Regions from separate parts of the Homo sapiens genome. Here region 1 is linked to region 2. Evidence: fine-mapped expression QTL. Tissue or cell type: whole blood. Region 2 holds a variant in brackets; the other region holds the start of a gene. All regions are shown on one strand. Distances are between the middles of the regions.

Evidence for each region. PIP is the estimated chance that this variant, and not a neighbour inherited with it, causes the effect.
Region 1: it holds the start of ELOVL7, and the variant in region 2 is fine-mapped to the expression of ELOVL7 in whole blood (TOPMed, PIP above 0.99).

Annotation. Positions count from the first base shown.
Region 1 is chr5:60,836,386-60,852,879 of GRCh38, forward strand. It overlaps ELOVL7 (ELOVL fatty acid elongase 7), which reads right to left and starts at 7,884. Exons shown (of 9, transcript NM_024930.3): 1 at 7,775-7,884. RefSeq lists silencers at 7,556-7,615, 7,626-7,785, 7,806-8,105.
Region 2 is chr5:60,813,072-60,827,460 of GRCh38, forward strand. The region is part of intron 1 of ELOVL7 (ELOVL fatty acid elongase 7); the gene reads right to left. Among named protein-coding and RNA genes, the nearest start is that of ELOVL7, 24 kb to the right of the region's middle. RefSeq lists a silencer at 9,258-9,317. The variant T/C (reference allele first, on the strand shown) is at 7,950.

The DNA.
Region 1 (16,494 bases), 24 kb after region 2:
TAGTCACACACGAAGAAGAGGATGAAGGATGAAGCTATCAGCTGTGCTTTCTAGCTAACTGAATGATAAGCAGCAAAGGGATTAAAATGTGGGTCAACATTGTTCGTTGGCTGGTTTATTTCTGAGACATAAATCTTTCTGTCCTACAGGATGCAACACAGCACTGTCTGCCTGAAGAAGGTACAAAAAGACAGGTAAGACTCTGAGGGGCAGAGAAGCCCCTGAACAGACTTAAAATAAGTCACCCTTAAGTAATAAGTGCCCTTTACTTTTGTTCTGCCCTTGTTAGAGCATTTAATTAAAATAAACACACAAACAAATCACAAGCGTGCTATTAGGACAAAACCCAAAAATTTGGGACAGAAAGAAGGAGAAGAGTTGGGGGATGGGGCTGTATTTAGATTAAGGGCTGCTAGTGAAACTCTCTTTGTCTAGATCTCACGTTTCTACCATTGACACTAAAAAATCTAAATTGGGTTTATTTTTATGGTTGCCCTTACGCCCTCACAAAACTATTGTAAGATATCAGAGTCCTAGGGCCTCCTATATTCTCAAAAATATCAACCCAGAGAGTTAGTATTCAGAGTGGGGAGAGCCTAAACCTTGTAATTACACCTAGGTTTAAATCCTGGCTGCATACTTCTACCAGTGTAGCCTGAGCACCCTTTCTGCTTTTTTCACCTTTCTGTACCTGTGCATATGATGAGCCAGACTTTGCTGGCTTCAAAGGATTCATTAGAAAATACAAGTAAAGAGACTCACTGCAGGCTGGGTGCAGTGTCTCACGCCTGTAATCCCAGCACTTTGGGAGGCTGAGGCGGGCAGATCACCTGAGGTCGGGAGTCGAGACCAGCCTGGCCACCACGGTGAAACCCCGTCTCTACTAAAAATACAAAAATTAGCCGGGCAGGCGTGGTAGGGCGGGGGGGTGGGGGGGGAGTGGGGGGTGGGGGTGGCGCTTGTCAGGAGGCTGAACCAGGAGAATTGCTTGAACCTGGGAGGCAGAGGTTGCAGTGAGCCAAGATCACAACATTGCACTTCAAACTGGGTGACACAGTGAGACTCCACCTCAAAAAAAAGAGAGATTCATTGCAACTATTACTTATGCCTAAAAGATGACAAACCTTTCACCCCATAATTTTCAATAAGATGTTTTAAATGTAAATGCAGCCTTGAGTATCCTGTAAGGACAGAGGTACAGATGATGCCCATGAAGTTGATTTTCTGTTTCAAAATTCACATGCAAGCTAAGCATAATCAAGATATCTAATGTAGGCTGGGCGCAGTGGCTCATGCCTGTAATCCCAGCACTTTAGGAGGCCAAGGCAGGTGCATCACCTGAGGTCGGGAGTTTGAGACCAGCCTGACCTAACATGGACAAACCCCGTCTCTACTAAAAATACAAAATTAGCCAGGCATGATGGTGCATGCCTGTAATCCCAGCTACTCGGGAGGCTGAGGCAGGAGAATTGCTTGAACACGGGAGGTTGCAGTAAGCCAAGAGCATGCCATTGCACTCCAGCCTGGGCAACAAGAGCAAAACTCTGTCTCAAAAAAAAGATATCTAATGTAAACAAGGAAGGTAGCTGTCCTTTCCAGATCAGATAGGGAAATGAGATAAAGGCCTGATGGGAGGAGGAGAGGTTTCATAAAGGTGAAATGGCAAGCGCCAGAGAGATTCAAATCTTAACACATCCTTTTCCTTCTTACAGGCTTCCCAGGATTCCCCACTGACATTATGATAAAATCCAAAACCTTTATGGGGTCAAAAAATGCTCTCAGTAAGCCTGGCCTCTGCATGCCTAGGCAACTTCAACTCACACCCTCTTCCTAGTTACTTTAAAGTATCTGCATCTCCCTGATCGCACCTGCACTCTCTCCCTAGATTCTATTTCCCACTCCTCGTCCCATTTCTCAGCTGCCCTAACTCGCACTCTTCCTTCTTTCCTCTCAGAAGGACTTCCTGTCTGCCCGCCTCTGCCTTGCCTCCCCAGGACCTGGTCTGTGTATATCACAGCACAGTTTATCATACTGAACTGTAATTTTGTAACTTACATTTACTTGTCTATAACTCACATGGACCTGGACTGGCTTTAGCAATCTGCCAGCCCCTTTGCCTGACACAAAGCTAACACTCAAATGTTTGTTGAGTGTGCAGCTTCTGAAACTCCCCAGTTTTATCTAGGTTTGGCTCTTTTACCCTACATTAGAAAGTCCAAGAAGCAGGGCTGCTGGTGTTCATGGCTTAAGTAGCTGCTTATCCAGATTGATTAAGATTTGTCTTTAACATGGGGAATTTGTAAGCTATGTGGAAACTTATCTCATTTGAATAATAGTCTGTTTAAAAATATTTATGAGTCAGGTGTGGTGGCTCCTGCCTGTAATCCCAGCACTTTGGGAGGCTGAGGAGGGCAGATCACCTGAGGTCAGGAATTCAAGAGCAGCCTGGCCAACATAGTGAAACCCCGTCTCTACTAAAAATATAAAAATTAGCCATCTTGGTGGTGAGTGTCTGTAATCCCAGCTACTCAGGAGGCTGAGGCTGGAGAATCACTTGAACCCAGGAGGCAGAGGTTGCAGTGAGCAGAGATAGCGCCATTGCACTCCAGCCCAGGCGACAAGAACAAAACAGTGTCAAAAAAAAATATATATATATATATATTTATGATGGGCCAGGCATGATGGCTCACGCCTGTAAGCCCAGCACTTTGGGAGGCTGAGGTGAGCAGATCATCACCTGAGTTCAGGTGTTCGAGAACAGACTGGCCAACATGGTGAAACCCCATCTCTACCAAAAATAAATAAATAAATAATTAGCTGGGCATGGTGGCATGAGCCTGTAGTCCCAGCTACTCAGGAAGCTGAGGCAGGAGAATCACCGAACCTGGGAGGCAGAGGTTGCAGTGAGGCAAGATCGCACAACTTTATTGGTCGACAGAGCAAGATTCCGTCTCAGAAAAAAAAAGAAAGGAAAAGAAATTATGATGGTATGCCAACTTCTATCATTTACAAAAAGAGTGATTTCACTTGCCAATGTAATAATATGTACTTTTAGAAATCAATTAGGAATAATGGAAATTTCAAATTTTTTCAAAGACCAGTGATATAAAATGCCCAACTGGTATTAGTTTTCAACTTTTTGCAACTGTGCATGGTCAAAACTGGATGAGTCACTGAAACACATGTAAGACATATTTCTAAAAGTGTGTTTATGGCATGCTTCTTTCCATGCTACGTGATGTATCTTCTTGAAATTCTGGCTATTCTCAGTTTAACATGCTACCATTTACCATGGCTCCGGAATTCCGTGTTTGGTAAATAGCAACCTTCCAGGCCATGTGCAATGGCTCACATCTGTAATCCTAGCACTTTGGAAGGCTGAGGCAGGAGAATCATTTCAGCCCAGGAGTTCAAGACCAATGTGGGCAACATAGTGAGACTCTGTCTCTATAAAAGATACAAAAAATTAGCCAGGCATGGTGACATGTGTCTGTAGTCTCAGCTACTGGGGACTCTGAAGTGGGAGGATTGCTTGAGTCTGGGGATTGAGGCTGCGGAAAGCCATGACTGTGCCACTGCACTCCCGCCTGGGTGACAGAGAGAGACCCTGTCTCGGGGGGAGAAAAGAGCATCCTTCTGTATCTTAAAACTGATAAGCACAAGTGGCACATCATGGAGAATAAACAAATCTCAAAAATTAGAAAAAATCCTACTTTCTCAATTTGCCTAGAAATTATTTGCAGATAGGCGCTTTCTTTTATGCACATTTGAAAACCCTATGGCAGGTTGAATTGTGTGCCCCAAAGAGGATATGTTGAAATCCTAACCCCCAATACCTCACAGTGTGCTATTATTTGGACATTGAATTTTTGCAGATGTTAAAATGAGGTCATACTGGAGTGGGATGGGCCCTAAATCCAATATGACTGGTGTGTTTATAAGATGGTTATGTGAAGACACAGACACAAAGGGAAAATGCATATGAAGACAGAAGCAGAGATTAGAGTGATGCCAGCACAAGGAATATCAGAGATTGCTGCTGTCACCAGAACCTAGGAGAAGCATGGAACAAATTCTCCCTCAGAGCTTTCAGAAGGGTTCAACACTGCTGACACCCTAATTTTAGACTTGTAGCCTCCAGAACTGTGAGACAATAAATTGCTGTTTTTTCAAGCTACCCAGTTGGTGGTACTTTGTTATGGCAGCCTGAGGAAACTAATACAACATTTAATAATACTGTTCATGTTTAATTGAATTGCTGTTACTTCCTAGAGAGAGAAGTTAGGTAAAATGCATTGATCCTCTTTTTAAAATCGCTTTTAGAAATCTGACAGCATGTATTGAGAACCATAAAAATGACCATACTTGCTGACGAAGTAATTCTACTTCTGGAACAGTATCATTAGGAAATGAGTCCCAACTTGTAAAATGATACAACTGCAAAGATAAGTATTACTATAACTTAGGTTGTTTATAATTTGTTGCTAATATACTTGTCCAACAATAGAGTTTTAGTTAAGTAAATCACATTATAATTACTAGAATACAAACAATATGAGTTCTGAAAATTACATAAGATGAAAAATGCTTACTAGGTATTATATGGAAAACACAGAATACTAAAAAAAATTACTTTCCTTTTTTTTTTTTTTTTTTTTTAAGACAGAGTCTCCTTTGTTGCCCAGGCTGGAGTGCAGTGGCATGATCTCAGCTCACTGCAACCTCTGCCTCCTGGGTTCAAGCGATTCTCCTGCCTCAGCCTCCCAAGTAGCTGGGACTACAGGCATGTGCCAACACACCCAGCTAACTTTTGTATTTTTAGTAGAGATGGGGTTTCACCATTTTGGCCAGGCTGGTCTCAAACTCCTGACCTAAGGTGATCCACCTGCCTCAGCCTCCCAAAGTGCTGGGATTACAGGGGCGAACCACTGTGCCCAGCCTGAGAATACTAAAATACTATATGGAGTATGATGAAGGAAAATATGCATAGAAAAAAAGAGAGAGACAAAGGCAACCTGGTTAAATATTCATTGTGGTAGAATTATGTTCAGTGGGTCTGAACTCTCTTCTTGGCTCCCTGATCTTATCCTTTTGGTACCAATTTCCAGTCTTATTTTCTCTCTCCTCAAGCCTCTCCATGCACAGCCAATTCTTTCTTGGCAATGCCTCTTGGGAGCAGTCCAGGCCCACTTCACCTTATACAGGTTTTTGTGAAAAGATTCCTATTTGGCCTGACTGTAGCCTATCTATGGCCAGAATAACACTGTCGTTCTATTGCTGAATACATCTACTGTGTTAATCTGTCCATTTATGTTTTATGCACTTTTATGTATGTGCTACGTTTTTCAATAAAAAGGTTTTTTTTTAACTTTATGTGTTTTCATATTTTGTTTTGTCAAGATAAGGATAAATGGTTTTCTGCTGATTTGCTTCATTATACCTCTAAATGTAATGTTTCATCAGAACAGCTGGGTACCTGTTTGTGACAATGGAGTGAACACAGGCTTTTCTCCCCTTCATGTACAATGTCTACCAGCTCCTACACGTTTACCAATGCAAACTCCGTAACTTCCTGTAAAACCTGGCTTAAAAATTTCCATCATCAAACCTGCCTGATGTGTGCTACCAAAATTTATACTGTATCATCTTCTACATTTATCAAGCAACTACTAGCTGTAAGGCCTGAAGATTTAATGTCCTAAGCTGTTTGCAATCTTTTTGTGCAAAGCAAACATAAAAGATGATAACAAATAGCAGAGAAGGGCATATGTGTTCAAAGTGGGGAAGAGGGAGAGTGGTGAAGAGAGGATGGGAGTGGGCGAGACTGATAAAGGCTAGAAGACACCATGTAAAAATTGGATAGAAGATATTTAACGAATGGGAGAGGAATGGCACGGCACCTTGGAGACCAGGATAATGGCAGGACCCTTAATGGAAATGAGCATCTGGAGCTGTTTTGGGGAAAAGCCGGGCAAGTCCAAGCGGAATATTATAATGTGCACTGACAGACGTTACACTAAAACTGAAGAAGACATGGAAAGCACAGAATCTTAAGCCAGATAAATACAGGTGATAGATGAAGTAACAAAGTCCCAAAAATCTATTTTTCTTAAAAAAAAAAAAAGCGGGGGCAGGGGGAGGGTGTGGGGATCCTAAACTAGTATAAAGACACATAAGAAGGAAAAGAGGGACCTGAGATTGACAGCCTGGTCAACGATGCCTGAAACAGCACGGGACTTCAGAAAATAAGGACGAGCAAACGAACTCTAGGTGAGGCAGTGTAGGACAGTGGTTAACAGCTCCAGTGCTGGAGACAGAACCCCAGAGCTGGAATCTCCTACCGCTGAGATGGGTGTGGCCTTGGGCAAGTTACTTAACCTCTCCGTGCCTCAGTTACCTCATCATTAAAATGAGAATAATATTAATATCTACTTCCCAGGATCGTTGTGAAGATTAAAAGCTTTTACACAAGAACTGACATCAGTGCCTGGCACCTAAGCACTGATAAATGTCTGCCACGGGGTGAGGGGTGGATTTTATTTAGTTCTCGGTGACCTTGGGGAGACCAATTTCTGATCAGTAGTACGAAGAGAAACTACAAAGAAAGGGAATGAATAAGCGGGTGCGTGGTAAGAACGCAGAGGCAGCCACCAGGTATCGATGACCCTTTCGGAGCACGTAAGCAATAAAAGTGAGGAATGAAATAAAGGGTAATCCGAGAGCACAGGGTTAAGTGAACATGCTTTCCGAGGGGAGATCGTAGCAAGAGGGAAAAGACCACTGGCGAGGAACTCGGGTCGCTAAAACTGTTCTTCAGTCGACGCGGGACTAACTACACTGGGAGCAGGACAGGTGTAAAGACCCGCTCCTTCCCGTCCCGAGTTCCCCAGGGAGCTCCAAAGAGCGCTCTGTCCGCACCGGGTGAAGTTTGAAACAGCTCTGACTTGAAGGGGGAAAGCCCATTTCCCAACGAACCTGGGAAAGCCCATTTCCCAACGAACCTGGGAAAGCCCATTTCCCAAAGAACCAACGATACCTGGGACGACAAAACAACAGGCTTTCCTGTTTCCATCTCCGGCACGACCTGTTCCACGGCTCTGTATTCATCAGCCTCCTCCCGGCCAGCAGCAGCCACCAAGACAGGATGCGGCTCGGGGAGCCGAAGGGACAGCGCCCCAAGTTCATCTGGCCGCGGGAGCAAAAAAAGCGCCCAAAGGGGAAGGAAGGAAACAGAAAGAAAGGGGCTCCGGAATTTGGGGGGGTGGCTAGCGAGGCCAGACCCCGGAGCTGGGAAAATGACCTCCGCGTCCAAGGTCGAGCAGGTCCTTCTCCCTCCCAGTCCCGCCGGCGAGCACCTCTGCCCCTCCCGCTCCGCTCCGCAGGGCCAGCGCCGCGCGGGACCCCAGTCCAGGCTCCGCTCCGCAGCGCGCCCACCGGGCCCGACCTTCCCTTCGGGATGCTGCCGGGTGGGGGCTCCCGAGAAGGCGCAGGTGAGCGCCGCGGCCCCGCGCTCCGGCGAAAAGGGCCTCGGTCCTCCCCACGCGCAGGCAGCGGGGACAGAACTTCCCAAGCGCCTCCCGAGCCCAGGGAGGGCCTGGCCCCGCTCCCGGGGCCCCCGCACCCGGGTCCCACTTCTCGCGCGCCGCGCCCAAGTTCCTCCATCCGGCCACTCCCGACGCCGTTCCCCTCGGCTCTGCCTCCCTCCCCAGTCTCTTCTCCTCCGCGCGCCGGGAAAGTTTGGCCCCTGCCCGCCGGCCTGGAACCCCGCACTCACCGCACAGGGAGCGGAGCCGAAGCGCCGGGCGCGCGCGGGAGAGAGGGCGGCGACTGGCAGCGCGAGCGCGGAGCTCCTCACAGCGGCCCCCGCTGTCCCGGCCGCCGACTGGGTTGGAAAGGGGAGGAGGCCGCCGGGTGTCACCTGCCCGCTATCCCACCCAGCCGCGTGACGCGCGCAGCGCCGCCCCCTGCCCGCCGCCGCCAGGTGCCCGCCGAGGGCCGGAGGGAGGAGCCGGGGCGGCGCGAGGGGGAGCGGCCGGGAGGGCGGAGGCCGCCCCGGCCTCGCCTCCGCCGCGCGCCCTGACTCTCGGGACTGGGGCCCACCGGCCGCTCTGGGTTAGCGGGGCTGGTCGTGGCACCGATGACCTTTCTTTCCGAGAGCAGATGCCATCACTTGGGGGACATCTCCAGGCTGACATAGCAGAGTGGAAATTGTCGTCATGCGTGACTCATTTGGGAATGAGCAGTAGAAAAATCCGAAATGAGGAAAACCTAGCTGAGGCTGGAGGCGGAGAAAAAGGGGACTCCTTGCTTCTGAAAGGGTATTGGGAGGGTTAATTCGCATCTGAAATGGAAGCCAGACCAAGAGGAGAAGGCCCTGGGAGGGGAAGGCCGACTTGGTTCAGCTCCATCCCCTGCTTATAAGGAATAAGAAACTAGAGAATTGAGGCAGCCTGGGGGGCATGGGGAGAGGACTTTTAGAGCAATGAAGATTAGATTGTATATCATCTAACTTTGTTTCTGGTAACAGCAACTGCTGCAGGAAAAAAAGTCTAGAAAATTCATTTCTCGTTACCTACTGTTGGATTGGAAAGTGGGGGTGGGGATGAGCGTTCGGAGTGTGCACCTGCGCTTGGTTTATTTATTTTTTAAACGTACCTGGCCTTGTGTCTGGTAATGATCCTCCTAATCGCTGGTATGATTTGGATCATCAATAGCTGAAAGGCAAAATAGGGGCCTAGAGAAGTTCCCTGCTTCTGAGGCAAAACCAAAGGCTGGTGTTGAACTGTCCAGAAACCTAAAAAACAATAATCATTTTTAGTTGCAGTCCTGACCCAACCACCTCACAAATGTGGGCTTTGAGTTTGTATTGCGAGTTCTCAGCATGGAATCAAGAAACACAAAAAGGGGCTGGGAGCGTCAGGACCACCAGAGAGGATGGGTAGGGAGAAAAAAAAAATTGGGGTGTCGGAAGCATATTTTCCTCACATGTAGGGATTGCCTTCGGCAGCTTAATCCCACTACATTAAACAAGAGGTTTTAATGTTTTTATGTAAAACTTCGAAAGTGTCCATTGAAAGAAAAGCAAAAAAAAAAAAAAAAAAAAAAAAAAAAGCTTAAATTGCAAAGAATCTCGAAGTCAAAAAAACTAAAGATTTCTCCTTTCTTTTAGATAACTTTGCTTTCATATTAAAAACAGATCATTTAGTAGACTTAGGAAGTCTTTTGGGAACGGGAGACAATTGCCTAATGATACTAGCCTTTGAGTCTATCACAATTTACCATTTATATATACTTATGAAATTTCAAATATGCAGAAGCTCAAATGGATTCATTTATTTAACAAATACTGGAGTGCTGCTATGTTCCAGGCCCTGAAGTTTCAATAGATAACAAATTCCCCGTTCTCAGGGACTATACGTTCATTCTAGTTGGAGATGACAGACAATACATGAATAAAGAAGTAAAAAAAATGTAGTGTTCAGCCAGGCGCAGTGGCTCACGCTTGTAATCCCAGCACTTTGGGAGGCCGAGGCGGGCAGATCGTGAGGTCAGGAGTTCGAGACCAGACTGTGCAATACAGTGAAACGCCGTCTCTACTAAAAATACAAAAATTAGCCGAGTGTGGTGGTGCGTGCCTGTAGTCCCAACGACTTGGGAGGCTGAGGCAGGAGAGTCGCTTGAACCTGGGAGACAGAGGTTGCAGTGAGCAGAGATCTCGCCACTGCACTCCTCCAGCCTGGGCGACAGAGCTAGACTCTGTCTCAAAAAAAAAAAAGAGGAAAAAAAAGAAAAAAAATGTGATGTTCAGGGTTTGATAAGTGCTATGAAGAAAAATAAAGAAGGGAAGGGGATGGAGACTTTTGGAGGTGGGGAGTTGTGTTAAATGTTAAAGTGGTTAGGGAAGGCCCCAGTGGAAGCAGGCATTTCAGCCCAGATTTTGAACAGGTAAGGTGACACACCTGTGTGCCTATCCAGTAACAGCATTCCACTCAAAGGGAATGGCAAGGCTAAAAGCTCTGGGGGTGTGGTGTGGGATATTCCATTCATAGACCAGCAAAGGGGAGATGTCAGATGAATTTCAGTGAGTGAGGACAGTAAGAAATGAGGTCAAAGAGTTAAGGAAGCATTTTGAGTAAAAAACTGTCATACTTTGACATTTTCAAGAGTATTTTGGCAACTTTTTTGAGAATAGGGCATGGGGTATGGAGGCAGAGAAGAAGGACAGAAGTAAGACGATGATCAGGAGGCTCTTGGGAAATCCAGATGAGAGATAAAGGTGGCTTTGACCAAGTTGGTAGTAGTGAAAGAAGATTTAAAAAAATACATTCTGAAGGTAATATTAACAGGATTTCCTGAGAATTTGATATGGGCTATGAGAGAGAGAAAAAAGAGGTCAAGGATGACTCCAGGGTGTTTGCCTTGGGTAACTCGAAGAAAAAAAATGCCATTTACTGAAAGAAAAAAAAACTGTGAAAGAAAAATGTAGGGAGAAGGGCAGGTCAGGAGTTGTTTGGCATTGCTTTAATTTGAGATACCTGTTACCTATCTAAATGGGAATGAATGTCAAGTAGGTAGTTGATTACACTAGTCTGGAGGTCAAGAAAGAGAGGTCTGGGCTAGCAATATAAATCTGGATGTAGTCAGTTTCCAGATGACACTGAAAGGCATGAGAATGGCTAAGAGCACCAAGAGTGAGAATAGAGAAGAGATTATCCCTCCTTTCCCCATTTGCTAAATTCTCACACACGGGGTTCTGTGTTTAGGCTCTTGATTCCATTCCACTGTCTATGTGTCCTGCCTTATATTTTCTTTTACTTTTACTATTTTATGTAAATGTGAAAAGAAGCTTTCTTTCTTGTTTTCAATGAAAAGCTATGGCAGGATTTTTATTTTAATTGTCTTAAAGTTATTTAGGGATAACCTGTCATCTTTATGATATTGAGGTGACCCATCCATGAACATATATCTCCATAGTTGGTCTTTCACATATTTTATTATGCTTATTCTTAGGAACCTTATAATTATTGCCACTACTATCAACGTTTTTTTTTTTTAAGACAGGGTCTCACTCTGTTGCCCAGGCTACAGTGCAGTGACACAATCATAGCTCACTGCAGCCTTGAACTTCTGGGCTCAAGCGATCTTCCAGCCTCAGCATCAGAGAAGCTAGGACTACAGGCATGCACCACCATGGGGGGCTAATTTTTTAATTTTTTGTAGAGACGGGATCTTGCTATGTTTCCCAGACTGGTCTCAAACTCCTGGTCTCAAGAACCTCCTTCTTCAGCCTCCCAAAGTGCTGGGATTACAGGTGTAAACCACCGTGCCTGGCCTGGTATATGTATTTTTAAATTACATTTTCTAAATGTAAATATAAGAACGCTAATTTTTGTTTAATGGTTGTAAATCCTTTGTCTTTACTAAATTATTAGTAATTTGTAGAGTGCCTCTGGTATTCTCTTGAGGCAACGATAACCCTTGTGAATAATTACAATTTTTTTCACTATATTTTATTCTTTAAGAGAAAATTGAACCCTGTCAACTTCTTACTCTATGTCAGTATCATATGGATTTAACTTTTACCAGTGATTCTTATACTTTACTGAGAGTCACAATGCTTGGGATGTTATGCAAGTTCCTGAAAATTATTTTGAGATGCTGATTTAGTGAGTCTGGAGAGTGGGCCAAGGAATGTGCATCTTAACACACGCTCTTAACTGATTCTGTTAAGAGTTGCTGAGACACCTTACATGTGACCTATCTTTTCTGATACTTATCATTGCCTCCCCAGCTGTGCTATAAGCCCTAAAGGGAAGATATTTTATCTACTCTCTCTTTATATCTGTGGTGCCTAGGATATTAGCCTACAAACAGTGGGTGCTAAATAAATATGTAGATGGCAAAAAGAAATTTAGAAAAGTTGTGGAATGTACTTTTGTGAGTTTCATATTTAAATGCTTTAAAATGTTTTCCTATTTTTTTATATAGATTTCATAATGATAACTCTGAGAGATAATGATAACTCTGATATCATCAGAGGAAGAACATAATTGCAATATGATAGGTTCATTGAGTAAATGACTATCAACCATTCCCACATCTTGTTTCTTTACCACAAGGTATCTGTAGCCTGCCAGACTTAAAGGCTTCATCCTTTTAATTTTTTTTGGCATTGAAATGCAAACTATGAGTTTCAGAAAAATCATTTTCTTTCTGGTAATCCTGTTCACATATCTAAGATATATGTAAAATTAATATCTCCAAGACAATGTGAGATACAGAATGAGAACATCCCTCAAGTTATTATAACAATCAATATAATTATTTTCCTGTAAACCTCAGTTATTTGAAAATACTCATGATTTTTGACTGTGAAGAATTGCCACTTATTATGATCATGAAATTAACTTTGATCTGACTTCAAATATTATAAAAATGCTTTCTGTGCCAACTATATTATCTGAATGTTTATTCAATCAGTTTATCTTGATATCACAGTTTTGTGAAGGCCAAATCTAACATAATAGTATCTAGTTAAAATTCTCATGTCCTACATTTCATAATAATAAACTGCTCTTCAAAGAGATAAAACTACTATCATAATTTACATTTTATTGCATGGGTAAATAATATACCATCAGGAAAAACTATTTTAGAAATTTAATGGAAACAATAAACAAGAAAACATAAAAAATATTTACACTTTAAAACTCCATTTAACTCTCATGAGTTTTGGGACTTTGTACTAGACACTATATGTTATTTATACTGCATGTTACTCATAACTTTTTTGTGCTATGTGTTACTCTAAGTTTTATGTAATAATAGTTAACTGATGTCTAATGTACCTCATAGGTTTACATAACAATTTATCAAATGGAGGCTCTGTTTTCCTGGAGGAGTTTCATTTATGCTAGGGTGGTGTTTCCCAAATTAGCCTGATTTTAATAATCACTGAGGATAAATGCTAAAAAACACAAATTTTGAGGCCCCTCCAGTACAAGGCCAGCCATACTTTGGATGGCAATGAAATAACCAATGAAAAGAATTTCAATGAGTTTTATCTGTGTCTTTTAACATTGTATATTTTATTTTTATTCCCTGGATATGCCTGCTTTTGGAGAGATAGCCTGTATACTTTATTATCAATCCTGGATGATTACTTTCTTGGATAATCATTACATTTTTAGTGTAGTGATTGAAAGGCTTATCAATTTGGGGTAAGAAAAAAACAAAGAATACTTTTATTAATAGGCTATCACATTTTAGAAGATTTTATAAAAACATTAGGATTTACATATTAGATTTTACATATTCTATGATACTCTGTTAAAAAAAATTTTTTTTAGGGATGGAGTCTCACTATGTTGCCCAGGCTGGAGTGTAGCAGCTATTCACAGATGCAATCATAGTGCACCACAACCTCAAATTCCTGGGCTCAAACAATCCTCCTGCCTCAGCCTCCTGAGTATCTGGGACTAGAGGCATGTGCCGTCATGCCCAGCTCTTAAATTTTTTATAGGTTTTGAATATTTCCAAAAGACTTCTTGTCTTAGTCTGATCAAGCTGCTACCACAACTGAGTAGCTTATAAACAGCAGAAATGGATTTCTCACAGTTCTGGAGGCTAGGAAGCCCAAGATCAAGCAGCTAGCACATTCAGTGTTTGGTGCAGTCCTTCTTGATTTATCAATGGCTCTTTCTTTTCTTTTTCTCCCTCCCTCCCTCCCTCCTTCTCTCCCTTCCTCCCTTTCTTTCTTCCTTTCTTGTCAGGGTCTTACTCTGTCACCTAGGCTGGAGTGCAGTGGCACAATCACAGTTCACTGCAGCCTCAACTTCCTGGGCTTAAGCAACCCTCCCACCTGAGCTTCCCAAGTAGCTGGGACCACAGCATGCACCACCACACCCAGCTAATTTCTGTATTTTTTTGTAGGGATGGGGTTTTGCCATTTTGCCCAGGCTGGCCTCGAACTCCTGGGCTTAAACCATCCTCCCACCCTGGCCTCCCAAAGTGCTGGGATTATAGGAATAAGCCACTGAACCCAGCCCTGATGGCTCTATGAAAGGAGAACCTGGGGCCTCTTTTATAAAGGCACTAATACCATGTGTGAGGGCTCCTATCCTCATGATCTAATCATCTCCAAAAGGCCCTCCCTCCTAATATCATCACATTGGTGATTAGGTTTGAACATATGAATTTAGGAGGACAGAAACATTCAGACCATAGCAATGCTATCCTAATAAAATTGTGGTAAGCAAAACGAGGCACTGGGGATTACACACACACACACACATATATATAATTTATTTTTTTTAAGATGGGAGTCTTGCCCCATCACCCAGGCTGTAGTGGAGTGGCGCAATCTTGGCTCATTGCAACCTCAACCTCCACCTCCCAGGTTCAGGCAATTATCCCACCTCAGCCTCCGAGTAGCTGGGATTACAGGCGCCCACCACCATGCTCGGCTAATTTTTGTATTTTTAGTAGAGACGGGGTTTTGCCATGTTGGCCATGCTGGTCTTGAACTCCTGACATCAGATGACCTACCTGCCTTGGCCTCCCAAAGTGCTGGGATTACAGGCATGAGCCACCGAGCCTGACCTAGGGGATTATATTTATTAGACAATATTTGTGAACCTTGGGTGCATACAAAAATATCAAATTAGTCAAATTATTTTTACTTGTCCAAGGAACATAGTCTTTGATTGAAATGTACATTTTAAACTGTTATTAGAATGTTTTTATTTTACAGTTTAAGGTATGTTTTCAAAATGATTTATCATGGTATAATCTGTAGTCAGTTAATCAGTGTTTACTGTAGTCAGTCAATCAATGTTTACTTTTGGCATAAATGACAGTGGAGGCCAGCTTTTAAAATCAGACTGAGTAGAGATGAGCATATATGTGTTAGTGACTGATTTCCTTTTTTTATTTTGAGACAGAGTTTCGCTCTTGTTGCCCAGGCTGGAGTGCAATGGCATGGTCTCAGCTCACTGCAACCTCCACCTCCCGAGTTCAAGCGATTCTCCTGCGTCAGGCTCCTGAGTAGCTGGGATTACAGGCGCGTGCCACCACGCCCGGCTAATTTTTCTGTATTTTTAGTAGAGACAAGGTTTCACCATGTTGGTCAGGCTGGTCTCAAACTCCTGACCCGTGATCCGCCTGCCTTGGCCTCCCAAAGTGCTGGGATTACAGGCGTGAGCCACTGTGCCTGGCCATGACTGACTTCCTAAGTGAAGAAAAGAAATTGTGAATTGCTTTATATTACTCATGTTTCTTTTTCTTTGGCATAGATCATCAAGACCTGACCCTGCAAATGGATGTGATTTAAAAAATGGTATCTTTTATCTCTGTTGTTCTTGGTTTTATATATCCATTTAATGCATTTAAAATGAGTTCCCTATCTATTTTTAAGCAATTGTGCAGATAAAGCATTCTAAGAAATGAGAGTGAAGGAGCTGTGACATATCCCCCAAAGCAAAGTTTGTGAGTCATTTAGTTACAGCTCATTTGTTTCAGCTGTTTTTTTCTAGATTAGCATGAGGAAAAATTAGACTTGTTCAGAAAGCTTAAGAAAATAGTTATTGTAAGGGAAAACAGTGATGGGCATAGAAATGGCCAGATTCTTTTCTATATTCTATCCTATTTTTAAGAGACAGGGTCTTGCTCTGTCGTCCAGTCTAGAGGGCAGTGCAGTAGTCATAGCTCACTGCAACCTCAAACTCCTGGGCTCAGGTGATCCTCAGGCGAGTAGCTGAGACTACAGGTATGAGGGTATGAGCCACCACACCAACTTGTTGTTGTTGTTGTTTTTGTTGCTTTTAGATAGGGTCTTGCTCTGACACCCAAGCTGCAGTGCAGTGGTATGATCTTAGCTCGTTGCAACCTCTGCCTCCTGAGTAGAAATGAAAAGCATGCCCACTCACAGCTATAGCAGATGATGGCTAGCTATTCACTAGATTTGTTTCCTCTTTCTCCTGGGCACGCAGCTGGATTATATCTCCCAGTCTTCCTTACAGTTTAGCAGTGGCCATGAAAGTGAATTCTGGCCAATGGAATTCGAGCAAAGTGTTGCTTGTCCCTTCCAGGCCTGGCTCATTCACATTTAACAGGTGAAATCCTGTGTGTTCTTTCTCCTGCATCACCCTGAAGGAAGCCTTATATGCTGAATGTGGTGGAGCCACAAGATGGAAGGGATTCTGTGTTCTCAAATTACCCTGTGGAGGGGAAGGATCTTCTAGGAATTATAAACAAATTTATAGTGCATTAAGCCTCTGAAACTTTGTAGTTAATCTGTTACAACTGTTAGCCTGCCTCAAGTGATAAAATACTCAGAGAAGATAGTACTCAGAGAAGGATTTACAGTTTCACCCTGCAGAAAGCAGGAAATGGTTAGCTCTTCCTTTGGCCTTTCCTTGATATTTTGCTAGGTAAGGGCGGACAACCTCTTGATATTCTTCCTTAATGGACTAGTTTTCCTAACTTTACCTTATT
Region 2 (14,389 bases):
CACCATCACAGGAAGCCTAACTAATCCCAAAAGGAACTCATCTTGCCCAGCTTCTATCTTCAACCAACAGGTTTATTGATCCGTCACCTTCACAGGCGTTAATGGCTTGACTTTTCTTTTACTCCAAGCCATTAGAATCATCTTTGACTGTGCTCTTTTACCTCCAACCTGTGAGCTGTTACAACCTGACTTTTCTCAAATGAAAATGTTCCCCACAATTCTCACTGCTAACAACCAGAACTTCGGTTGACACGTGTATTACTATAACTGGGCCTGGATAACTCTTGCCTCTACTCATATATCCCTTAAATCTACGCTTAGGGTTAATCTTATTAAGAGAAAAATATAGTCCTAAAATACCACTTTCATCACCTTTTCCCCTTTCCCTATTCTAAATTACATCAAGTCCCAAGTTCTCAGCTCCACTATCTGACTCCACTCTTCTCATTCAACACTCCCTACTGCCCTCCAATGTAAAAATCTCTATTTCCCTTTAGTAAGTTATTTCTCACCTGCCCCCATTCCTCCCTCCCAATCTCAGAAGTCATCAACTCTTTGTTTTTGTTTATATCAATTTTTTTTTTTCAGTTAACAGAAACAGGGATTGTTACTTCAGAGAACACTTGTTAAAAGACCACTAGCCTGGTTGTAGTACAAAAAGGATTTGCAAAGAGGGGAAGCAGGAGATAAACTCGACAGGTAGATTGGGGCTGACTAAGAAGGTCCCTAAGGGCAAGTGCATCACAGTCTTTTCTCTTAGATAGTTAGCTGTCAGGCAAACACACTGAAACAATCATCAAATTATGATAAAGCCCAGACAAGCAAAACAAAATACGAAGGTCTCCCTTGTGACCACCATGTATGAGATTTGTAAGAACAAACATTTCCTGCCATGGGAACTTTGCCACTGTGTGCCTCAGATGAAAGCAGTTCCTCTGCTTTCATACATTAACCAAGAGATTCAAAAGCAAGGTGGCAACAAGAACGAACTCAGCTAAGCTACTTCTCTGACAAAGGTCGGAAAGACTTTTCTCAGTTGCCCAAATCAGCCTGTGCCAACCTGGAATCCTCATTATTGAAATCTTTTGCAAAAAGAAAGCTGTCTTGATTAAAGTTTTAAAAATCGGTGGTTCTGAAAAGAATAAAATTTTCATAATGAGTTATTATGAAATCTGTGAAATGGGTCAAAAATGCATAAGGAAGAAGCAGAACCACAGATGACAATCAGCCTTCTCATCCAGCCTCAGTAGTCATCTTGGAGTATTGCTCAAAAGTCAAAGAGGTGTTAACAGATTCTGTGAGGAGATTGCAGAGTTTTCTTGAAACAAAGGGATCTGACCCAGCATACCACAAGCAGTACAACTAGGCACATCCCCTGAAACCAACTATTGTCTCTACTTCTTGAGGCAAGGGAGTATAGTGAGTTGCTACCCAAGTTATCCAAGAGAATAACAATAACGCCCACTAACTGAAGGTTCTGGGTCATGTACTGTGCTAGGTATTCCACTGACATTATCACATTCAATCTTCCTAGCAGCTCTTATCAGAGAAATACCATTATCTTTATTCTACAGATAAGGAAACTGAAGCTCAGAGAAGTTAAGGAACTTGCCCCAGATCACACAGTTACTAAGCTGTAGAGGAAGTGTTCAAAGTTCAGGGTTCCAGTCTATGCTCGTCATGATAGCACACAGCTTCCCAGTGTGAAGGGCAGTAAGAAGAACAAGATGGTGAAATGAATTTCATCAATCAACCAACATTTATTAACACCACACTAAGCCCTATGCTGGGCTTAATTGTGAATGGTAAGCAGAAAATACAGGGCTGGAGACTCACCTCCACCCCATCCCCATTTACTGCTCCTAAAATCCCTATCCCATGAAAAACATCACATGAACTACATTGCAGCTAATTGCCAGGAAACTATAAGAGGACCCTAACAAAGCATATGAGCTGATAGTCTTAAATTCAAAGCATATACAGAATTTTAAGTGGTAGCCTTTAAACATATGCTACCAAGCTAATGCATAATGAACTGAAATCAATACTACTATTATACAATAATCGGTCCACATTACTTTCTGTAACAAGTGTGATTTTAATTGGATTAAGGAATTTGTAGCATGTTTTCCCTCTAAATAACCCACATGAAAATACTTATCATTCTTTAAATGTTTTTGTTCACTTCCTCCTATATGGGAACATAAAACTATGGAAAATACTAGCAAGAATCACAGCTTGGAAAGAATTTTAGGATTACCTAAATCTAAATAACCTAAATATACACTAAATCTACTACTTACACTCAGGTAATGAAATAAGCAGATGAGTATTTCATTTTCCTTTAGCATCACTCAGAGTGAAATCAGAAAAACCTTGCAGAAGTTATCTACCTTTGCTTAACCCTTTCATTAAAAAGTAGGAAGTAAACATGAACATCACATTGTAAATCTCAAATACACGCAATAAAATTTATTTATTTTATAAATAAATAAAATTTATTTATTTTTTTTTGAGACAGAGTCTCGTTCTGTTACCCAGGCTGGAATGCAATGGCACGATCTCAGCTCACTGCAACCTCTGCCTCCCGGACTCAAGCAATTCTCCTGCCTCAGCTTCAAAAATAGCTGGGATTGCAGGTTTGCGCCACCATGCCTGGCTAATTTTTCTATTTCTTTTTAGTAGAGATGGGGTTTCACCATGGTGTTTAATATTTATTTTAAAAATAAAATAAAAATGGTGAAAGTCTTTAGGTTTGCTAAAGCCAAGATGGAATAGTAGAGTTATGATGTAGCTCACAAGTTATGGCAGTTTTTATCTGAGGTCAATGGAGTGAAAAGACGTCTCAGGCAGATCTGAGGCATGTCCTGGAATGGTGTGGAATAACGCTAGTAATCAAAAGACCAGAACCTGGGCTTGAGCTCTGCCAACTTGCTGTGACTGGATATCGGAACAACTTTAATCCTTGAGTCTCTATTACCTACAAAATGGAGATAATATATGTCATTTAGAAGAGTTTTGGGAAGGGCCAGGTGTGGTGGCTCATGCCTATAATCCCAGCACTTTGGGAGGCCAAGGCAGCTGGATCACTTGAGGTCAAGAGTTTGAGACCAGCCTGGCCAACATGATGAATCCCCATCTCTACTAAAAGTACAAAAATTAGCCGGGCATGGTGGCGGCCCCTGTAGTCCCAGCTACTCAGGTTGAGATAGGAGAATTGCTACCAGGATTCAGAGGAGGCGGAAGTTGCAGTGAGCCGAGATTGCATCACTGCACTCCAGCCTGAGCAACAGAGCGAGACTCCATCTCAAAAAAAAAAAAAAGAGTATAGGGAGGATTAATTGGTTACCCATAAGCACTACATAGTCTAAAGACTTTACCTGAATAGATTGGGATCAATAAGACAAGGTGAACTCCTGGAGGGCAAAGAATAAATGTTATTTACCTATACCCCACCACAACCCACAATACCACACAGTTCTAGCCAAATAGGCCAAATTACACTATAAATGGATTTTTGACACAAAGTCAGCACTGGTTATTTCAACATGTGGCCCTTGGAAAAATGTACAATGATAATGCCATGGCAGCTTCTCTTCCAGTTGATACTTTAAATATTTAAGAAATTAACCAGTAGATGCAGGAATTAGTTCATAGTAGATACACATGCATTTTAAATTATTGGGGAAAATACAGATTATTCAACAAATTATGTGAGGATCAATGGGTAGCCAACTGGAAAAAAAATTAATTGAAATCCATATCTCATATTAAAACAAATTTCAGATAAATACAAAATTCAAATGTAAAAATGAAATTATAAAAATACCCGGTGTTTGGGGAAAACTGAATGAAAATTACACAGATCTCTCTGTAGTAATGTTGCAACTTTTTGCGAATCTATAATTATTTCAAAATTAAAAGTTAAATAATTGGTAAACCTGAGCTAATTATTTTATAATACTGGAATGAGGCAGGATTTTCCAACAATGACACAAAACATAGAAGTCACAGATGTAAAGATTAAATATGACCACTTTAAATATTTATACAGTGAAAAGCTTAAGCACACAAAATCAAAAGAGAAATGAAACTGAAAGGAAAACATAAGTATCTCATATCCCAAAAGGTTACTTTCTCTAATATATAAAGGCTTTCAACAAATTAAAAAAAAAAAATTTCTCAGCAGAGAAATGAAAAAAAGATACAAAAAACAGAGGGTTTACAGAAAAGGAAATACAAATAGCTCTAAAATGTATTCAAAAAGATGTCCAATGTTACTCAACAATGTGACAAGTACAAATTTAAATTAGAGTGAAATATCATTTTACTTATCAGATTGGCCAAGACCATAAAGTCTGATAACACACTTTGTTAGTCAAAGTCTGGAGAAACAGGCACTCTCAGACATTGCTGATGGGAATGTGAACTGGTACAACCTCTATGGGAGTGATTTGGCAATATCAACTATAAAACAAATGGTGTGTGTGTGTATATATATGTGTATATATATATGTATATATATTAGTATATATATTAGTTTATATTTGTATATATGTATATTAGTATATATATTAAGTATATATATACATATATACACATATATACACACACACCATATATATACACACACCATATATATACACATATGTATATACCATATATATACACACACACCATATATATACCATATATAAACACACACACCATATATATACCATATATATACACACCATATATATGTGTGTGTGTATATATATGTGTGTGTGTGTGTGTGTATATATATATATATATATACTTGCATGAAAGATACACACAGGAGATTTTTTTATTGTAGCAATCTTTTAATAGCAAAAGAAGTGGAAACAATCCAAATGTCCACCAATATGAGACTTGTTTAAAAAAACTGGTATATTTGAACAATGGAATGCTATGCCTTAAAAAAAGAATAAAGTTATAAAAAGGGCCAGGTGTGATGGCTCACATCTGGAATCCTGGCACTTTGGGAGGCCGAGGCAGGTGGATCACTTGAGGTCAGGAGTTCGAGACCAGCCTGGCCAACATGATGAAACCCTGTCTGTACTAAAAATATAGAAATTAGCTGGGTGTGGTGGCGGGCGCCTATAATCCCAGCTATTCTGGAGGCTGAGGCAGTAGAATTGCTTGAACCCGGGAGGCGGAAGTGGAAGTGAGTCAAGATTGCACCACTGTGCTCCAGACTGGGCAACAGAGTGAGGTTCCATCTCAGAAAAAAAAAAAAAAAAAAAAAAAAGTTATTAAAAGAATAAAGGAATGAAATAGCTTTACCTATGCTGCTATGGAATAATCACTAAAAATCACACAAGACAAATACTTCCTTGTATGTGCGCAAATCTCTGGAAAGAGTAATAAGCAACTGTAACACTGGTTACTTGAATAAAGTTAAAAATGAAAGCAATGATAAGATACATGTAGTAATGGTTCCTAAATTTTATGGCCATACATAGAAGGAAGTAAACTAAACAGTAATTATAATAATTACTCACATTTACTGAGAACTTGGTACGGGGCTTGAAGCTATAGCTTACTAAAAACAGATAATTCGCTACACAGAGAAGAAAACATCAACACAAGACAAACCTATCAGTAGACAGCATGGATTTAAGAAAACTTGAGGCTGGGCATGGTGGCTCACGCCTGTAATCCCAGCACTTTGGGAGGCTGAGGCGGGTGGATCACGAGGTCAGGAATTCGAGACCAGCCTGGCCAACATGGTGAAACCCCGTCTCTACTAAAAATACAAAAAAATTAGCTGGGCATGGTGGTGGGCACCTGTAATCCCAGCTACTCGGGAGGCTGAGACAGGAGAATCATTTTGAACCTGAGAGGTGGAGGTTGCAGTGGGATGAGATATTGTGCCACTGCACTCCAGCCTGGGCAACAGGGAGAAAGAAAAAGAAGAGAAGAGGAGAGGGGAGGGGAGGGGAGGGGAGGGGAGGGGAGGGGAGGGGAGGGGAGGGGAGGGGAGGGGAGGGGAGGGGAGGGGAGGGGAGAGGAGAGGAGAGGAGAGGAGAGGAGAGGAGAGGAGAGCAGAGCTTGATATAGACCTCAATATACTAAAAATGAACTGACAGAAATCAGGTGTTATCTTTGTATCTCACTTTCTTCCTCATTTCCCAACCTAGCATAGACTCTTTTAAAAAAGCAGCTACTCAAATGTTTATGAATTAATGAATGAATTACTACTAGTTGAATAGATGGGATAGGTGGATAGACAGATGGATGAGATGGACAATGTACTGACGGTTAGAAGAAAGAGTGAAGTTGAAGGGTCGTGATCTATCTCGGTTCCCATTCCCATCTGACACTGGGCAAATTCAGTCTCCTTTTGCTTCCCTGTACAAATGAGAGGTGCTAGAATGCATAAGTGTTTAAGAACCACGATCATAGGCTGGGAACGGTGGCTCATGCCTGTAATCCCAGCACTTAGGGAGGCCGAGGTGGGTGGATCACCTGAGGTCAGGAGTTTGAGACCAGCCTGGCCAACATGGTGAAACCCCGTCCCTACTAAATATACAAAAATTAGCTCGGCGTGGTGGCAGGCGGGCGCCTGTAATCCTGCCTACTCAGGAGGCTGAGGCACGAGAATCATTTGAACCTGGGAGGTGGAGGTTGCAGTGAGCCAAGATCGAGCCACCGCACTCCAGCTTGGGTGACAGTGAGACTCTGTCTCGAGAGAAAAACAAAACAAAACAAAAAAAACCACGATCATAATGCCTACCTGACTTGGTGGATAATTACTATTGTAGTAGACAAAATGATGCTCTCCCCTCCGCGCCTAATATGTCCAAAAGGGTTTCCACAGATGTAATTAAATGTATAGACCTTAAAATAGGGATTTACCCTGGAATATCATGTTGGGCCCGATGTAATCAAATGCATCCTTAAAAGTAGAGAACTGTCTCTGGCTGGAAGAAGGAGGATTTGAAGCATGAATATTCAGTGCAACTTTGCTGGCTCTGGGATGGACTGGCCCACATTCAAGGACTGGGGAGAGGTTCCTAGAAGGTAAGGGTGGCCTCTGACAGACAGCCTGGAAACAGGAACCTCTGTCCTACAGCCACAAAAAAAGTAAATCCTGCCAACAACCTGAATGAGCTTAGAAATGGATTCCAAGCTCCCATTGGAGCTCCAAATGGAGCCTCCTAATAAGAGCCCAATTGACCAACACCTTAATTGGGCCTTGTGAAACACAGAGCAGAAAAACCAGCTGTGCCAACCTGGAATTCTGACCTACAGAACTGTGAGATAATACATTTGTGTTATTTCAATGAACTTAAAAAGTCTGTGGTGGTTTGTTATGGCAGCAATAGAAAACTAATACACTATCTTTCGGTTTAGTTTAAGAACCATTTGTCAAGCCTGTTCCACATGCCAGGCCCTGTGACCAGTGTCTGGGATAGAAAAATGGGTACACATTCTCAAGGAGCTCATAAGTACTTCAGCCCAATGGACAATTCTATGCAAGAAGTTAGCACAAAGCACTACAGGAACACAGAAAGGCACCTAACTGGTACGACATCTTTAGACTCTTGACTTCTCACTTCTCCAACACCCTCCCCTTCTATTATTCGTTCTCCCAATGAGTTGGACCACGAACCTGATCACAAATCAGAAACTGTGAGCCATCCTTAAACTCCACTGACCCCTTAAGACCTGTGGTGTATGCCATCTTTATGATATTTCTCCTAAAAGTCCCTTCCCCTTTCCTTCAACTCCACTTCCTCCCCTCAACCCCTGACTGCTACTTCCTGAGCTTTATCATCTCTTGGCCACACACAGAAGGAAGTGAACTAATAAGTTTGTCTACTGATAAGTCTGTCTTGTGTTGATGTTCTCTTGTCTGCCTAGTGAATTATCTGTTTTTAGTATGCTGTAGCTTTAAGCCCTATACAAAGTTCTCGGTAAAT[T/C]TGAGTAATAATTATAATTACTGCCTAGTTCACTTCCGTCTTTGTGTGGCCAAGATTACTGAAATCACCTTTCAACTAACTTTCCTAAATGAACAGCCATCCACTGTACACAAGGCCACCAGAGTCATCTTCCCAAGGATTAAAGCAGTCACACCATGCTCTACTTCAAAATCCTTCAAAGTCTGCCTACAGTTACTAAAAAGTCTAACTCTGTGGTGACGCTTAGCACCCTTCTAATCTCTAGCAGAGCAAAACTGTCCCTGCTGGACTTCTAACCCCAATTCCTAGGCAGGGTCTGGCACATGGTTGACTTCCAAACAGTATTCGCTGAACGAATGATCTCAACCCCACGTGACTCTCTAGCTTCATCTCTTGCCTAACAGCAACCTTTTCCACTATGTCCCCTCTATCCTCCAACTCAGCAAGCCCAAGTGCTCCTCCTTCCCCCTCTATCTATGCTCCAGTTTCTCTTCATGACTAAAAATCCTTGTTCGGCTGGCTGGGAAGCCTAGCTCACTTTTCATAATTCTGCCTTCCTCTAACATGCTTTCTGTTCCCCTTACAGCTAAACCACCCAGGCAAACTGTCCAGTCTCTTCTGAGCCCCTGACATAAGCTGTCCCCTCTTCTACCATGGCATCTATAGCAAACACTCTAGGACAGTGGCCTGTGACTGGTGCTGACGCACAAATGGTTTCTTACTAGATTGGTACCAGCTAACTCCAGAAATCAAGTGTAAGCATTTAGAAATGTTTATAGCAATTTGACATTGCTGTGACATCCAAGTATGTGATGCTTGTTGAACAAGGCATAGACCAGTTCAAGTGTTGCTGAATTTGTGAGGTGAGTCACATGTGGTGCAACCTGCATATTCACTATGTGCAATAGGACCATTTACTGATCCACGATAGGGAAAAAAAGAAAAAAACAAATTAAAAACCCAGTTGGTCTATTACCACAGATAGTTTGAGAAGCACTTCTCTAATGCCTTCAGGTGTGTTCTTACCTTCCTCCTTTTGGGAATGTTGTTTGCTGCCTGGGACAATGCAACAATGCAAATGTCTAATAAATATCAGTGAATAAATAAATGAAGGTGTGAATGATAAGAAGGCTTTGTGAAAGATGTGAGACTGAGCTATTTCTTGGTGAACAGTAGGAATTGGGTACTTTGGGGTTGTAGGATAGTCAAATGCACTGAGAAAGGAGTGCAAATGAGGAAGAGTGTGAAAGACACTGCATAGGCAATAGGAAGCGCTGAAAAGGTGAAATATTATTCATAAGCTCGATATGTAAAAGAGCTCAACCACACAGGTCACCAGAGTGCTACCCACTGAAAACCCCAAGCCTGTACCAGAAGAATCCCCTTAGTGCAAGCTTTAGCTATAGGCAAATCAGCTATGCAAAGGATGAATGTGATGGGTGAGCCTAAGAGCAAGAAGACCGAGTGGGGTTTAATTCCATCATCCCAATGAGAAATCATTATAGGCCTGAACAAGGGCAGAGATAGTTTGGTAAAGTAAATCCCAATGTGACAAGCCCAGGGGACATTCAGGTGGAGATGTTTAGCAGGCACTTGGGAGGAAGGTCAAGGCTAAGGATACAGCTTTTGGAACTTCACATCTAGTTGGTGATGAAAACCACAGTAATAGATGCATGAGAACAATAGTGGTCTAAAGACAAACGCCTGGAGAATACCATCACTTAAGGGGAAGGCCAAAAGATGGAATCTCACAAAGGAGACAAAAAAAGAAAGAGTCAAAAAGACATGAGGAGAACTCAGTACGTGCAGGATCATGAAAACAAAAGTGGGAAAAATTCTGAAGAGGGAGGCAGGGATGAATAGGGTCAAATGCATCAGAGAGGTTCAGTGCATAGAGTGGAATGGTCTTCAGCAAATTCAGCCAACCTGGAAGCCTCTGTGACTGGAAGGAAGAAGAAATTAAGCAATGATAAGGCTGAAGCCAAAATGCAAAGGCAGGTGATTAATAGCAGGCATTGAACAGGTCTTGTTCACGAAGCCTGGTGGTGAAGTCTAGAAGAGAAGAAGGAGAGGCAAAATCAAGCTTTATTAGTCTTAAGGTGATAACTGTTGGAGTATTTTTACAGTGAGGGGATGAAGTAATAGAGAGAAACAAGAAGGAACAACCCATGAAGGTCTAGAGGAGAAAATGAGGGGGATGGTCAGAAGCCCTGCAAGGCAGCATTCTCCCTCCACTGGAGCAAGGGTGATACCTCCTCCGAGAAGGAAAACGGGAAAGAAGGGCGTGAAATAGATGAGTTAGTAAAGGGGAGGAAGCCTTCTCCAGAGCCTAAGTCTGGATTAGGGCCCTTCCTACATGCGCCCATAGCATGTACCATGTCCAGTAATTGCCTAATTGACCTGCCTGGATGCAGGGATAGACCATAAGCACCAGGAAGGCACGGACTATAACTGTCCCATTTACCACTCTATGTCCCATGCCTACCACAGTGCCTGGCTTATCTAAGCCCTAATTAAATGTATAGTTGACTAAATGGGGACTAAAAATTAAAGAGGATTCACCAATAGATGCTTCAATTTTTCTAGCAAGTAGGAAGTGGGATCAATTGCCAAGGGTTTATAAAACGGAGTTAGGTAGAGGGTTTTTTAGAGATTAGTGAAAGAATAGAATAGCTTTTCAGGGAAATGGAAACTGAAAATCCTTCAAGAACAAGTTTAAAGTAGTGGTTCTCAATCTTAGTTGCACATTAGAATCACCTAAAGAACATGAGTAACTACTGATGCTTGGGTCCTGCCTCCAAATTTCAGATTTAACTGGTCTCTGTAGCCTGGGCTCCAGGATTTTTTTAAGTTCCCAGATGATTCTAATATGCAGCCAAGATTGAGAGTCACTGAGTGAAAGACTTAAGTAATGCTGGTCAGGATTGAGACAAGACTGGAAACCATGAACTGATCCATTTACCATTTTACCCAGTTTTCCACCACACTGTTCAGCTACCTGGGTATCCCTGCAGAGGATTACTGTAGGATTAATTTGGAATTAGGGCTTTACCAGGTAAATATGGAAGTAGGATAAATAAAAAATTCAGACACTACCTGGGTATCCGTGCAGAGGATTACTGTAGGATTAATTTGGAATTAGGGCTTTGCCAGGTAAATATGGAAGTAGGATAAATAAAAAATTCAGACACCAAGGCAAAATTATAGTCTCTGAGAGAGTGAAGAGAAGGAGGTATAAGAGAGCTGAACAGCCAGAGACCTTTACAGTGCTGTAAAGGTTATCACAGTTGAGTCACACAAGGAACTTTAAGGCCGCTCACAAGTCGGCATTTGAAGGGACGTGGAAGTCTCCCAGAGCAACAGCAGGAGTAACGATGGAGAAACGTCAAAGTCTCTAAGGCATGTGGGATTGAAGCGAAGAACAAGAGACAAAGAAGACTAAGAAAGGCAGAGGCAACAAAGCCCAACAGTGAGATGTTCAAAAAAGGAGAGTTTTGTTTCATTTTCCTATGGAAGTGAAAAAGTAACAGTTAGATTCAAATGTGGCAATGGATAGATAGGGGAATCCTGGCCAGTCCACCCAGATCTTTAAATATGGAAGAAAGCCTCCATTTCTTTCTACATAAAATTCATGAACAAATCCTATCTTCTAAATATATTCTAGAATCCAACTACTTTACTTTAACGGTGGCCCAAGCCACTGTCCTGTCTTATCCGGATTGCTGCAGTAGCCTCTAAGCTGGTCTCCCTGACTTCATCTTTGTCCCTCTTTAATGTCTTCCTCAAGTTAAAAACAACAAAACAAAAACTCAAGTCATGTCCCTTCTCTGTTTAAAATGCACCAATATTTTCCCACCTCACTCACAATAAAAGTCAAAGTTCTTATAATGGGCTCCACGGCCTTACATGATCTGGGCCCTGACTACCTCTCTGACCTCTGACCTTTCCTTCTTCTCACTTCTTTTTTTTTTTTTGAGACAGAGTCTCACTCTGTCACCCAGGCTGGAGTGCAGTGGTGCGATCTCGGCTCATTGCAACCTCCACATCCTGGGTTCAAGTGATTCTCCTGCCTCAGCTTCCCAAGTACCTGGGACTAAAGGCACACACCCAGGCTGGTCTCAAACTCCTGACCTCAAGTGATCCACCCAAAGTGCTGGGATTACAGGTGTGCGCCACCATGCCCAGCCTCACTTCTCATACTTAGCTTCAACTGCATTGATCCCCTTGTCCTTCCCTGAACACACCAAGAATGCCCTGCCTCAAGGCATTGAAAATCACTGTCCCCACAACCTATAGTTCTTTTCCTCCAGATATCTGCCACAGCTTACTCCTTCACTTTCCTCAGATCCCTGCTAAAATGTCACCACTCCAACAACACGCACTTCCCTTACCTTGCTTTATTTTTCTGCATCGTACTTTTCAGTGTTATATATATTTATATGTATTTCACCAATATTCTAAATTTACTTGTTTACCGTCTGGCCCTCTCTGCCCCCAAGAATGCGCTATATTATAAGCTGCTTAGGGGCAGGGATGTTCTTCTGTTTTGTGCACTCTTACCTCTCTGGCACCTGAAACAGTGCTTGACGTGTAACAGACACTGAAATATTTGTTGAATGAATGGATGGATGAACCTTCTCATAAGCAGTGTATGGGCCTGAGGTTGAGGGAAAGAGCTGTGATTCAGTTATATTTGGAAAATGATGAGACTGGGGATACAAGAGAACTGGAACACAATGGAACACCAGTCTCAAAGAATAAAGGACAGAGCTGAAAGTATGGTTAATAGTAACAGGAGCCAATAGAAAGGCTATAATACCCAGTAAAGGGTTTCTCTTTTGGTCAGTAACCAAAAATTACAAGAATGAGAGGAAGGGTGGGAATCCATAGCCTTAAATACCCTGCCTTGAGACAAGCAAGAATTGGCAGTCATAGGTTCAGTCCAAGTAGGGACAGGAATAGGGCATGGAGCCCCATCTGGGGAAGGAATGCCCAGCGGTGGACAGGCAGGGCACATGGACTGATGAATCCTATAGAGAGCAAAAAGCATAATGGTCTTTCCTATTACAAATCTGAATACAGGGGAGGTATTACGGTACATATACACCAAATAGTACGTATCTATAAAATGTACAGGTAAGCCAGAAAGGGAGGAAAAATAAATGGTACTCAAGGAGAGGGGTGGTTAAGAAAAGTAACCAACAGTAAGATCAAATTAATTCATCCTGTTTTGTATTTATGAGTACAGTTCATTTATCCAGCCTCATCTTCTAATGCAGTGTTTCATAAAAGTATTTTAGATAACTGAAATGCTTATCTCTAGGTGTAATCAAAGATACACCTGCCCAGATACACCTGTATCTGTGATTCTGATTTTTTTTTTACTGTAAAACATTTTTTTAAAGATTTCAATCATCTTATAACTGAACTTTTCTGGATGATTCAGGGATACTATTAAGATAACAGTATCATAGCAGTGTCCTCTGGGACTACCCCTATTTATGGCTATGGATCTTTGCCCTGCACTAAAAGTTCCAAATTGCAAGGCATTTCTAATGCCAGTGCCTGTTTTTTAACAAATTTCCTGTCTCCTCCCTATCAGTTTGTTAGCTACTGCTCTTCTTACTGTTTGTTACTAGCATTCCTGTTTCTACAAAATCTCACTCATTCTAATTTGTTTTCCCTAATATGCTATGGGATGGGAAATGAGAAAAACAACAACATTGGAATGTTTAAAATAGTGCTAAGTGGGTGGAGATTAAAAACCAGGGGGTTTCCTTCTGGGTGGAGCACAGATGTACTCAAAAGACTTTGGGACATTGTTTTCTCTGCTTGGGGATAATTTCTCTGCTTACTCATTTCCAGAAACATTTTAGGTACTGAAACTTCATGATAAATGGCCTCTGGGTTAGCAGACTGTATTTGTATCCATACTACTTTCTTCAGTACAGTTAGACTAAAATGATTGTTATTAAGGTGTCTCAATTCTCTTTAACAAATTAAACATGAACACAGATTCAGAACAACAGAGGATCTTCATTTATTCCATGTCTGCAAAAAACATCTCTAATTGAGAACGAAATGTATAATTTAGTTATTTTAACTGAAGAAAACATTTTCCCAGGGAAAGTGTAGTTACACACCTAAGCTAGTAGACAAATTGATTTAATGCATAATCTGTGTATACATTTGCAATACAATATTGCTAAAAATATCATTACTTAATTTTTAGGTTACGTAATTTTGATATGAAGGAAAAGATGCCAGAAAAAACTTAGACTAATATTTCCTTCCACTATTTATCTGGATAATATATAGTTTAATTCAATATTTCCTCAATGTAGGTTCCTCCAACTATGGCCCTTTCAAACAACAGCTGAACATCAACAAACAAAAATTGTAGACAATGTGAAACTAAAACAATGACTACCCTATAAAAGCTGTCATGTCAAATATTTACA